Linked DNA regions of Homo sapiens: region 1 is linked to region 2. The links come from fine-mapping of genetic effects on gene expression. A gene starts in region 2. The other region holds a variant in brackets. All regions are shown on one strand. Distances are between the middles of the regions. Region 1 overlaps KIF12 (kinesin family member 12). Region 2 holds the start of COL27A1 (collagen type XXVII alpha 1 chain).

What was found. PIP is the estimated chance that this variant, and not a neighbour inherited with it, causes the effect.
Region 1: its variant is the best candidate, but not a certain one, in a credible set for the expression of COL27A1 in aorta (GTEx, PIP 0.63).

The regions. Positions count from the first base shown.
Region 1 is chr9:114,089,522-114,094,882 of GRCh38, reverse strand. KIF12 (kinesin family member 12) reads left to right here. Exons shown (of 19, transcript NM_001388308.1): 12 at 428-530; 13 at 612-702; 14 at 911-997; 15 at 1,386-1,476; 16 at 1,550-1,654; 17 at 2,241-2,341; 18 at 2,432-2,550; 19 at 2,883-3,245. The coding sequence ends at 3,022. Among named protein-coding and RNA genes, the nearest start is that of KIF12, 7.1 kb to the left of the region's middle. The variant T/C (reference allele first, on the strand shown) is at 2,980.
Region 2 is chr9:114,152,515-114,157,875 of GRCh38, reverse strand. It overlaps COL27A1 (collagen type XXVII alpha 1 chain), which reads right to left and starts at 2,339. Exons shown (of 61, transcript NM_032888.4): 1 at 1,864-2,339. The coding sequence starts at 1,925. LOC105376225 (a long non-coding RNA gene) reads left to right here and starts at 3,608. Exons shown (of 5, transcript XR_930256.3): 1 at 3,608-4,781; 2 at 4,879-5,036; 3 at 5,189-5,283. RefSeq lists silencers at 1,173-1,467, 2,355-2,474 and an enhancer at 4,011-4,532.

The DNA of each region.
Region 1 (5,361 bases), 63 kb after region 2:
ATGGTTGTATAGGATGGGGTCAGGGTCCCAGCCAGGGTCATGCCAGGTTTAGGGCAGGTCTAGGGTTGGAGTTTGAGTTGGGATATGATTCAGGGTCTAGCTCAGTTAGTATCATGGTTAAGTGGGAGTTGATGTGGGGCCTAATGTGGGGTCTCGTTTGGAACCATTATCTGGCCCAAGGTTTGGACAGAACTGAGTTTGGGATTGGACTCACAGCTGAGTCCAGCTCAGAGTGGGGCCCTCCAGGACAGTGCACTTAGGACAAGGTGCCCCTTCCAGGCAGATACAGCCTTGTGCCAAGATGCAAGGCTGACGAATGAAGCATGGGCTGGATTTTAGGCCCCAGTTACTTCCCACACCCGGAAGTTCTTGTGCAGTGCACGACTTATACAACCATAAAGGTGGCTCTGGGCCTCTTTCCCTACAGTCTCCTGTGGCAAAGCAGCCCCAGCGTTTGGAGACAGAGATGCTGCAGCTCCAGGAGGAGAACCGTCGCCTGCAGTTCCAGCTGGACCAAATGGACTGCAAGGGTATGGGCTTCCTGGAGGCAGAGTAGGATGGGGATAGGGTCTGGGGCTCCTGTGGATCCACCACCTCCTGCTTCCCTGCAGCCTCAGGGCTCAGTGGAGCCCGGGTGGCCTGGGCCCAGCGGAACCTGTACGGGATGCTACAGGAGTTCATGCTAGAGAATGAGAGGCTCAGGTAGGGCACAGCCCACAGCCAGAGGGATGCTGCTCCCCACCCATCACTGCTAGGCTGCTTCTGGCAAACTGCCTCCTCTCCCTGCCCCTGGCTCCCTTATGTCCCCACCTGCTTCCTGAACTGGTGCTATGCTGCAATGAGGAGGAGCTGACTGATGCCCCACCCCAGCCCCATTTCCTACCCCTTCCTGGCTTGTGATCTCCCCTAGGAAAGAAAAGAGCCAGCTGCAGAATAGCCGAGACCTGGCCCAGAATGAGCAGCGCATCCTGGCCCAGCAGGTCCATGCACTAGAGAGGTAAGCAGAGCCACCAGCTTGGAGCCAGGCCTCTGGACAGAGGGCAGCTGGGAAAAGGGATGGCTTAATGAACTGCTTGAGGCTGGCCTCTGGATTCAGACCAACTAGGTTCAGTTTCCAGCTCTGCCACCTACTAGCTGTGTCACCTGGGGCAAGTCATTTAACTTCTCACTGCCTGGGTTTCCTCTTCTGTAAGATGGGGTTCATCGTCGTGCCTACTTATAGGCTTGTTTTAAAAATCAGAGAGAATAAGTTAACATGTAAAACTTTGAGAATGGGGCCCGGTACCTGGTACGGGATCCAGGAGTATTAGCTGGGAAGGGGATTTGAAAGCCAGCTTGGTGGTAGGGTTGGAGGCTGCAGGCATAGACCCTGCTGTTCTTTCTAGGCGTCTCCTCTCTGCCTGCTACCATCACCAGCAGGGTCCTGGCCTGACCCCACCGTGTCCCTGCTTGATGGCCCCAGCTCCCCCTTGCCATGTGAGTCTCACGGCCCAGCCTGGAGGGGTGACAAGTAGGGATGTCATGGAGCCTCTGACGCACCTTTTTGCAGGCACTGCCACCCCTCTACTCCTGCCCCTGCTGCCACATCTGCCCACTGTGTCGAGTGCCCCTGGCCCACTGGGCCTGCCTGCCAGGGGAGCACCACCTGCCCCAGGTAGGAAAGGCCATGGTGGGAGTGAGGGAAGGCTGGGAGAACTGGAGACCTTGATCCAGGAGTCATCAATCCAGAGCCCCAGGGATTCCAGGGCTGCAGGCTAGATCATGGGGAGTGAATGGCTGGCCTAGGGCTCCCTCTGCCCTGGTTTGAAATAGCTGTTTGCCTCACCCTCCCCCCTCCTCACCCTGCCCTGTCAGGGCCAGGAATTCATTCTGTCATTCACTTATTCATTCACTCACATATCTACTCACTTATGGATTTACTGAATCATACATTCACTTACTCCTTCAGTAACTCCCCAAGCTCCTTGCTTTATACCAGCCTCTCTTCTGGGCTCTGAGGAGTCAGAAATAGACCAGACGTGGTTCCTGCTCTCAGGAGGCTTCTAGTCTCAGGAGAGGACGGTAGAAGAACCATCTGCTGCACACAGAAGGCGACCAAGACCCCACCCCTTTATGCCATCCTGACATTCTTGGTACCTTGTGGGGTAGGCATGGTGGGGTGTCATGGCTAGCACCAGGTAGGTGGGACACAGAGAGGCAGGACTGAGGTCACCCAGAGTGGACTCTGGTCTTTCCTACAGGTGTTGGACCCTGAGGCCTCAGGTGGCAGGCCCCCATCTGCCCGGCCCCCACCCTGGGCACCCCCATGCAGCCCTGGCTCTGCCAAGTGCCCAAGAGAGAGGTGGGTCTCTCCTGGGGCACTGAGGTCAGAGAGGGGTGGTCTGGGGAACTCAAAGGCTCACCTCCCATCTCCCAACTCACCCTGGCCCAGGAGTCACAGTGACTGGACTCAGACCCGAGTCCTGGCAGAGATGTTGACGGAGGAGGAGGTGGTACCTTCTGCACCTCCCCTGCCTGTGAGGCCCCCGAAGACATCACCAGGGCTCAGAGGTGAAGAAGGGAGAGAGGGAGGGGCCCCTAATGTTCTCTGTGATCTTGGGGTAGAACCCACCCTCTCCAGGCCTCAGTCTTATCTCTGAAATGGGGTGGGTGTTGAGAGGTGGCTTCTAAGATCTTTCTACTTCCCAAACTTGGAATTCTCTTTTTAGGAGCATCTGCGTGCCCAGATGTATGTTGGAGCCCATGGTGTATGGGGGTGGGGTGGGGGGAAGGGTGGAGGGTACCTACCCCCTGAGGCTTCTCCAGAGGGTGTTGGGACCCAGATGGACCTGGGTGAGGAAGGGCCCTGGAGAGGGCAGGCCTCGAGTCTCACTGCTCCTTAGGTGGGGCCGGGGTTCCAAACCTGGCCCAGAGACTGGAGGCCCTCAGAGACCAGATTGGCAGCTCCCTGCGACGTGGCCGCAGCCAGCCACCCTGCAG[T/C]GAGGGCGCACGGAGCCCAGGCCAAGTCCTCCCTCCCCATTGAAGGCCAAGTGGGAACCCAGGAGACTGCTGTGTGACCTCAGACTGGGCTCCACACTCTTGGGCTTCAGTCTGCCCATCTGCTGAATGGAGACAGCAGCTGCTACTCCACCTGCAGCTGGGCTAGGGGCGGGGACTGGGGGTGCTATTTAGGGGAACAAGGGGATTCAGGAGAAACCAGGCAGCAGGGGATGAAATACATGAATAAAGAGAGGCATCAGCTCCAAGTCTGGTTGGTTCTATCCTCTGGGGTTATCAGTTATTTCCCCGTGGGAAATTAGAGGGAGGAAGGGCTAGGACTCTTGGCACAGATGTGTGTCCCCTTCCAGTCTGGAATATCCCAAGCTTCCATCTCCCATCTCCTTTCATGGTTTTTTGTTTTGTTTTGTTTTGTTTTTTTGAGACGGAGTCTAGCTTTGTCACCAGGCTGGAGTGCAGTGATGCAATCTCAGCTCACTGCAACCTCCGCCTCCTGGGTTCAAGCGATTCTCCTGCCTCAGCCGCCCAAGTAGCTGGGATTACAGGCACACGCCACCACGCCCAGCTAATTTTTGTATTTTTTTTTTTTTTTTTAGTAGAGATGGGGTTTCACTATGTTACCCAGGATGGTCTCGATCTCCTGACCTTGTGATCCACCTGCCTCGGCCTCCCAAAGTGCTGGGATTCTAGGCGTGAGCCAGCCTCCTTTCACATATTATACAAGTTTTGATTAAGCAACTGCTATATGCCATTGGGTAGGCGGTGGGGGAGTTGAATGGCAAGCATCTCCATGAAGGAGGCATGAGGGAAACTGATTTGGCCTGGAGCACAGGGAGATGGGTGGTCAAGGGGCTCACTCTGTGTCACTATGGGTCCTGGCGCTGGTGGGGATCAGGAGGCCTGGCTTCTTGTGCCACAGATCTACGCTAGGACTCTGGGCAAGTCCTGTTCCCTCTCTGGACCACTCTGGTTTTCAGTCAATTAAGTGGGGGACACAGTTTCCTTCCCACTGAGTTCTAGTGAGGGTCAAGGCTGTGAGCAATATCTGATTCATGGCATAAGTGCCCAGTAAAATGCTGTATTAGTCTGTTCTCAGCACTGCTGTAAAGAACTACCTGAGACTGGGGCATTTATGAAGAAAAGTGGTTTGACTCACAGCCCTGCAGTCTGTATAGGAAGCATGACTGGGAGGCCTCAGGAAACTTACAATCATGGCAGAAGGGCGAAGGGGAAGCAAGCACATCTTACCATGGCGGAGCAGGAGAGAGAGAGAATGAAGGGGGAAGTGCTACACACTTTCAAACAACCAGATCTCGTGAAAACTCACTACCATAAGAACAGTAAGGGGGAAATCTTCCCCCATGATCCAATCACCTCCCACCAGGTCCCTCCCCCAATATTAGAGATTATAATTCAACATGAGATTTGGGTGGGGACACAGAGCCAAACCATATCAGATACAGTGGGTCTGTGGTTATGGAGAAGTCCAGTATGACATGAGGAATTACGGGAAGCAGAGAGAGGACCCATTATAGAAAGAGCTATGAGGCTAACCTAACTCTTCACTTATAGTTAGGGAAACAGACCCACATCATTTATTCATTTGTTCATTCATTCATTCAACAAACAACACTGATGGCTGGGTGCCTGTAATCCCAACACTTTGGGAGGCCAAGGTAGGAGGATTGCTTGAGCCCAGGAGTTCAGGACCAGGCTGGGAAACAGTAAGATCCTGTCTCTACAAAAAATAAAAAATTAGCTGGGCATGGCGGCACACACCTATAGTCCCAGCTACTCAGGGGGCTGAGGCAGATCACTTGAAAACAAGTGGCTGAGGCTGCAGTGAGCCATGATCACACCACTGCACTCCAGCCTTGAAAAACAACAAAGCAAAAACACTGGCATCAACTGCAAATCAAGCTAAAAGGTGACAATGGAGACAAGGGCCAAGGTGGCTTTTCCAGGGAGCTCAGAGTCTGGTGGGGGACAGACAGGCATTTACAACCTCACAGGGGCTGGGGGAAGCCCAAGGGACTGTGGAGGCACAAAGGAAGGTCACTTGATCAGTGATCATTGAGGGGGTCAGAGAAGGTTTCCCAAGGAGGCCATGACTAAGGCTTGTAGGAAGGTAGACAGCATTGGGTTCAAGGGAAGGTGGAGGGGCTGTGGACACAAAGGCTACAGACCCCTGAGGTTCCAGAGCTTGTCGGGGCCAGGAAGTGCAGGGCCTTCCAGGTCACAGCCAGAGTTTGGGCTTGTGCCAAGGGCAGAGGGGAGCCATGGAAGGGTCTTAAGGCATCACCAGCCTAGATTCGTATTTAGGTCACGCTGGCCACCTGTGGGAGGTGGCCTGACTGGCAAGGA
Region 2 (5,361 bases):
TTCACAAAACCCAGCCAGCTAGGAATAAGGTGCCGGTTTTGTGGAAGAGAAAAACAAGCAGCAGAGTGGCTCACCCAAGCTGGCACAGCAGAGTTAGGATTCAAACTCGAGCCTGCCTGATGGCAAGCCTCATGGCCCTCCTGTGGTGCCGCCTGCCTCCCACCAACATGATTCTGTGAGTGTCTCACTGCTGTCCCCTACCACCAGTGGATATGTTACTCTGCGTAGCCAAGCCAGGCATGTGGGTATCAAGAGGGTCCCTGGACAGAGATGGAGGAGAGAAAATGCCAACAAAGAACAGGGGAGTGTGCTCAGAAAGGGACAGAGACCACCAGGAGGCTGCTGGCTGCTGAGGGTCCGCAGCGCTGGTGGAGGCACAGGAGAGGGAGAATGTTCTGAGTACAGGGAGGAAACAGAAGGAGGCAGAGGCCAGGGATGTGTCCATAGACATGACATGGAGTTTGGTCCGGCCAGAAGGGTCCAGGAGCAGAGGCATGCTGGAGAGCAGAGGCATGCTGGAGAGCAGAGGTATGCTGGCGCCAGAGCGCACATGATGCAGGACAACGTGATGTCAAGGGAGGCAGGGAGGCAGGAGAAGGCAGAGACTGGGCCTCCGAGCAGTGTTGACTGCCCACTTGCCCACAGCTGGAGCCCCACCATGGGGTGCTCGCCTGGCACCACTTTTCTGCCCAACTGCTGGCATCTACCCTGGCGCAGGGTCTTCTGGAGAAAATGAGTCAGCAGTGTGCTCACTGGTGCCGCGCGCGCGTATGTGTGTGTGTGTGTGTGTGTGTGTGTGTTGTGGTGAGGGGGTGCGGGGCGGGGGAATCGCAAACAGCCAGCTTTTTCCAAGACATGGGGAAGAAAGGAGGGGGTGTCATCCCGCGGACTCCAGCTCAAAGGGGGCAGGGCCCAGCTACAGCCCTAACAGCCTCTGGGGAGTGTCCTGGTGTCCTGGGGGCAGGATGGAAAGAGAGGAGCGCCGTCCACAGGCCCCAACGGGCTGCTTGCATGCTGCTGGCTCCCACACACACCCACACGCTGCGCCGGCTCCAGCACAGGCTCACTCTCTCTTACAACTCCTACTCCACACGCTGGGAATCCCAGCCTCTGGGCCCCAGCTCCGCGCAGCCGCTCCTGGGAGAGTCCCTGCCCCTCTCCGGCCCTGTCTCCCGATCTGTACACTGAGGGGTTCCGCACAGTGATCGCCCAGGGCCCTTTCTGCTCTGACATGCTGGCTCTCACTTTTTCTCTCTTACACACGTGAAAGGGACAGGAACCGAGAAGCAGGAAACACAGACACACAGACCCAGGCCGACTAACACAAACACGCGGAGATTTCCAGAAACGCGGGGACGTGCAGAGCCACACAGACACGGAGACAGGAGCAGAACCCGAGACCTGGTGACCTAGAAACTTGCGGACAATTTCACAAGAACAGATAGAAACGGAGACGTACAGGCTTGGGACCTGCAGACACTGAGACACCGGAACACACCGAGACGGCCCCAAACGGAGACCCCCCTCCTCCCCCAAGCATCCAAAAAGCCCCCCTCCGCACCCCGCCGGCCGCTCCAGGCGCCACCACCCACCCCCACCCCCGACCCCCGGGCTGGCTCTGCCCCCGCCCCAACGGGATCGGGCAGCCGGGCCAGGCGCGGCAGGGCGGGCAGCGTTCGCCAACTCTCGCCCGGCCGGGGGCGCAGCCCCTATTAACCCTTGGCGTCCCGCCTCGCGGGGGCGCAGGAAGGGGCAGGAAGCTGACGTTCCGCTGGAAGCGACCGCATGGCGGGGAACCCCGGCCCTCCCCGAGATTGGAGCAGCAGGAAGCTAGGGAGGGGGCGTCCCCGAGTTCGTACTCACCCCCCGCGCGCCGCCGCCGCCGCCGCTGTGCCTCGGGCCCCCCGCGCCGATCCCGCTCCCATGGCAGGCCCCTACTTCATGCTCCCGAGCCCGGGGGGCAAGTGTGGGCGCGCCCCATGGGGCCGCCAGCCCCCCGCCCCGCCGCGCCAGGCCGGCTTAGAGCGCGCGGCCCCCGCGCCCCCAGCGCAGCCCCGCGCCCAGGGGCGCCCGAGCAGGCAGGCAGCGCGGCTGGGGCCCCGCGGGCGCCCGCGCCAGGCCCATGGTCCCAGGAGTCCGGGCGCCGCGCTCGCCCCTGCCTCGGTCCTTTTCTGCTTCCACCAAAAAGGAAGAAGAAGCAAGAAAAAGAGAGAGAGAGATGATCAAACTTTTGGAGGCGGGCTGCTGGCGGTCCCCGGAGGCAGAGCAAGGCCGGGTGAGGGCGCGCGGAGGGCGGTGGAAGCTGCCTCCCCGCCGGCCTGGGGGAGGAGAGGAAAAGGAAGGATTTGGGGGAAATGAAGGCGATTTAAAGTCTCGGCCCGCGGTGGCTCTCCACCTTCCCTCCTCCCCGCTCCCGGCCGCCCTCTGCTGCCCCCTGCTGCCCCCTGCCGGCCGGAGCCAAGGGTACAGCCTCAGCTGGCCCACTACAGCCCCGATGGGACACCCGCCCCCCTCCTCCTTGTATAGATGGGGAAACAGATTCACAGAGAGGAAGGGGCTGCCCAGGGCTTCACGGTGATTTGATCACCGTTCTGAGATTAGGAACTTCTGACTGGTGAGGCTGGGGGTCCTCCAATGGGGGGTTGGGGTAGGGGAGAAGGGCCAAATTCTACTCCTGGAAGAAACCCACAGTTTCAGGGACGGAGCTAGGACCAGAACTTGGTGTCCAGACGCCCACGACAACCAGTATCGTGATCCCCACCGCCCACCAAAAGTTTGCGCTCCCAGACTCGGAGCGCCCTGGAGAACATATAGGGTGGGCTTGTTAAGGGTTTGCCACCCTCTCTCTCCCTTCTGTCAGCAATTGGAATCTAACCGCACCCCACCACCACCACTAACCACGCACCTCCCCAGAATCGACAAAAACTCCCTCGGATCCCATCCGGGAGCTAAGAGCTGCACACCTTGGCCCCCGGGCAAATTCTCACACCCAAAACTCCAGTCCAGCCCTGGGACCACAGCTCCCTCCGCCTCTACCACCTCTTGCCACTCGTTCACGAGCAAAGTTACACTTATTCACCGGTGCACACACACACTCCCACACGTATCCACCCTTTCCCCAAACTCAGACACACGCTCACACACGGTCCCATTCTGGGACAGCCACGCACCCTTCCTAGGTTCACACGAAACGCATCCTCAGATATCTGGGCTCAGGCGCACGCTGATACTCTACACTCGCAGAAGCATGCACACGGATGCTTACACAGGCACAAATGCACGCTATCCTGGCCATATCGCCCCCACACATGTACACACCCCGGGTGGACACACGCGCGCACACCCTCACTTGCACACAGTTCTCCGAGAGTGCCCACCGCACATGTGCACACACGCATTCACTCCTCACGCGTGTACCCACCTCCCCATACGCGCACACCTTTAGGCGCGCGCACACACAGGCATATAACACTTCGCACCGCTCCAGGAGCCCCCAAGCACTTACTGGGTCCCTACGTGCGAGGCTGGCCGGTCGGTCCTTCCTCCGGCGCCTAACGGCATTTGTATTCATGGGTCCCCGCAGCCGTGGGCGCGGGGGCGGGGGGCGAGGTCCCCTTCCCTAAACGGGGCGCGGGCGCGCGGAGCGCAGCGGCACCGGGAGGGGCATGGGCGCGCGGGACTGCGCCGCCGACCCGGTCCGCCTGCGCTCGAACTTCGGCAGCTCTGCGTCCACGGGCTCCGGCGCGGGCTCCGAGAGCTGGGGGCGGCTCATAGGTGCTGGGGCGGCGGCGCCCGCCGGGCCTTTTGAAGTCTCCGCTGGGGGCGGGGAGGGGGCGCTGAAGGCGGCCTTTTAAACCCTGGCTGCACGCGGGCTCGGTCGAGCAAGGTGTCTGGTTTCAACAAACTTTAGGAAAAGTCCCAAGCCGAGAGAGGGGAGGTAGGGGGGTTGGGGGAGCTGCATAGCTGTGCGCTGCTTCCTGCAGAGGGCAGAGCACCCATGGCTGCCAGGAGGGAGGCCAGTCGCGGGACTGGGGAACTGGCAGGCTGCTGGCCGGCGCGTGGAACCACCCCCGCCACCCCCGCACCCCCAATGTTGAACCAGAGTTCTTAACTTCCATGTGCACGAACCCCAGGGAGTGCAGGAACACCCCCAAACTGTGCACAAATTGAGCATGTTTGTGCATTCTTCAGGGGAGAGGGGCCGTGGGCTTTCCTCCGGTTTTCAGAAGTCCACGGCCCCCTAAGGTTGAGAACTCCCTCTTCAATCATAACTGATGTTTTTTTAGTTGCATACTTGGTACCATGCAGACCCTGTCTTTATTTACATTTTAGATATTTTGTTCATTGTGGGGTTTTGCATTAATTTTGATACTTTTAAAAATATTTTAAAAGTAAAAAATTAAAATATTATTTTGATTACTTAGGGGTTTGGGGCACTGCTTTGGGCAATTTACCTCCGTTGCTGAGTTTTCTTGGCATCTCCTGGTATGCTGCATCTCTGCATGTGCCACACCCTAGTCCAGACCCTGACCCACACAGTGCTGGGGTTTAAGGGAGGCCTGCTTTTTTCTCTCCATTTACAGATGGGAAAGCTGACATAAACGGGTAGGTGGTAGAGGTGGGATTTGAACCCAGGTAACCTAACTCCAAACTTCTGCATCTTGTCATAAGGATCCAAATCTTAGGCTTTAAGGGGTTCTGTGCAGATCCTCAGCAGCCTCCCCAGCTTCAGATCCGGCCTCCTGAGCTCCAGTCTCTCTGATACCTGCACCCAGGCTCAGGTAAGCTTGACTACTTCGATGCTTTCTCCATACTGTTTCCTCCCAGGTTCTCCCTCTGCCCCTTTTCTGCCTGTTCACAACCTGGTTATTCTTCTAGGTGCAGGCCAGAGCTCACCTGACTCTGGTGAGCTGCTCTGCCCTACACCGGGATTGCAGCACACATCACATGGCGCTGTCATTGTCAGATCCATCTCTGTGTCCCCACACCCAGCCTGACACATGGAGCCTGGGATACAATAGATGCTCAAACCGTTGGTAATTTAAATAAGTTATTTGTTTTAACTCCTACAGTATGCAAACCCCTGTACAAGACTCTGGGGGAAAAGGGTCTGCCACTGTGGGGGCAGGGACAAAAATTTCCATATGGTCCTGCCTTCTGGTCATGCACGCATTTGTAATGTGGACAGGAGACACGCACAGCAACTTGGGGTAGGGAAGAGAGTCTGGATGGGAGACATCAGACATCACTATGTCATGGAGAACCCCCTGCAACTGCATAAAGGTAAGATAATATAAGGAGAATGTGATAAATGCCACCAAAGAGATGCAGATCAATTGAATTGTGAAGCTGATTAAGGGA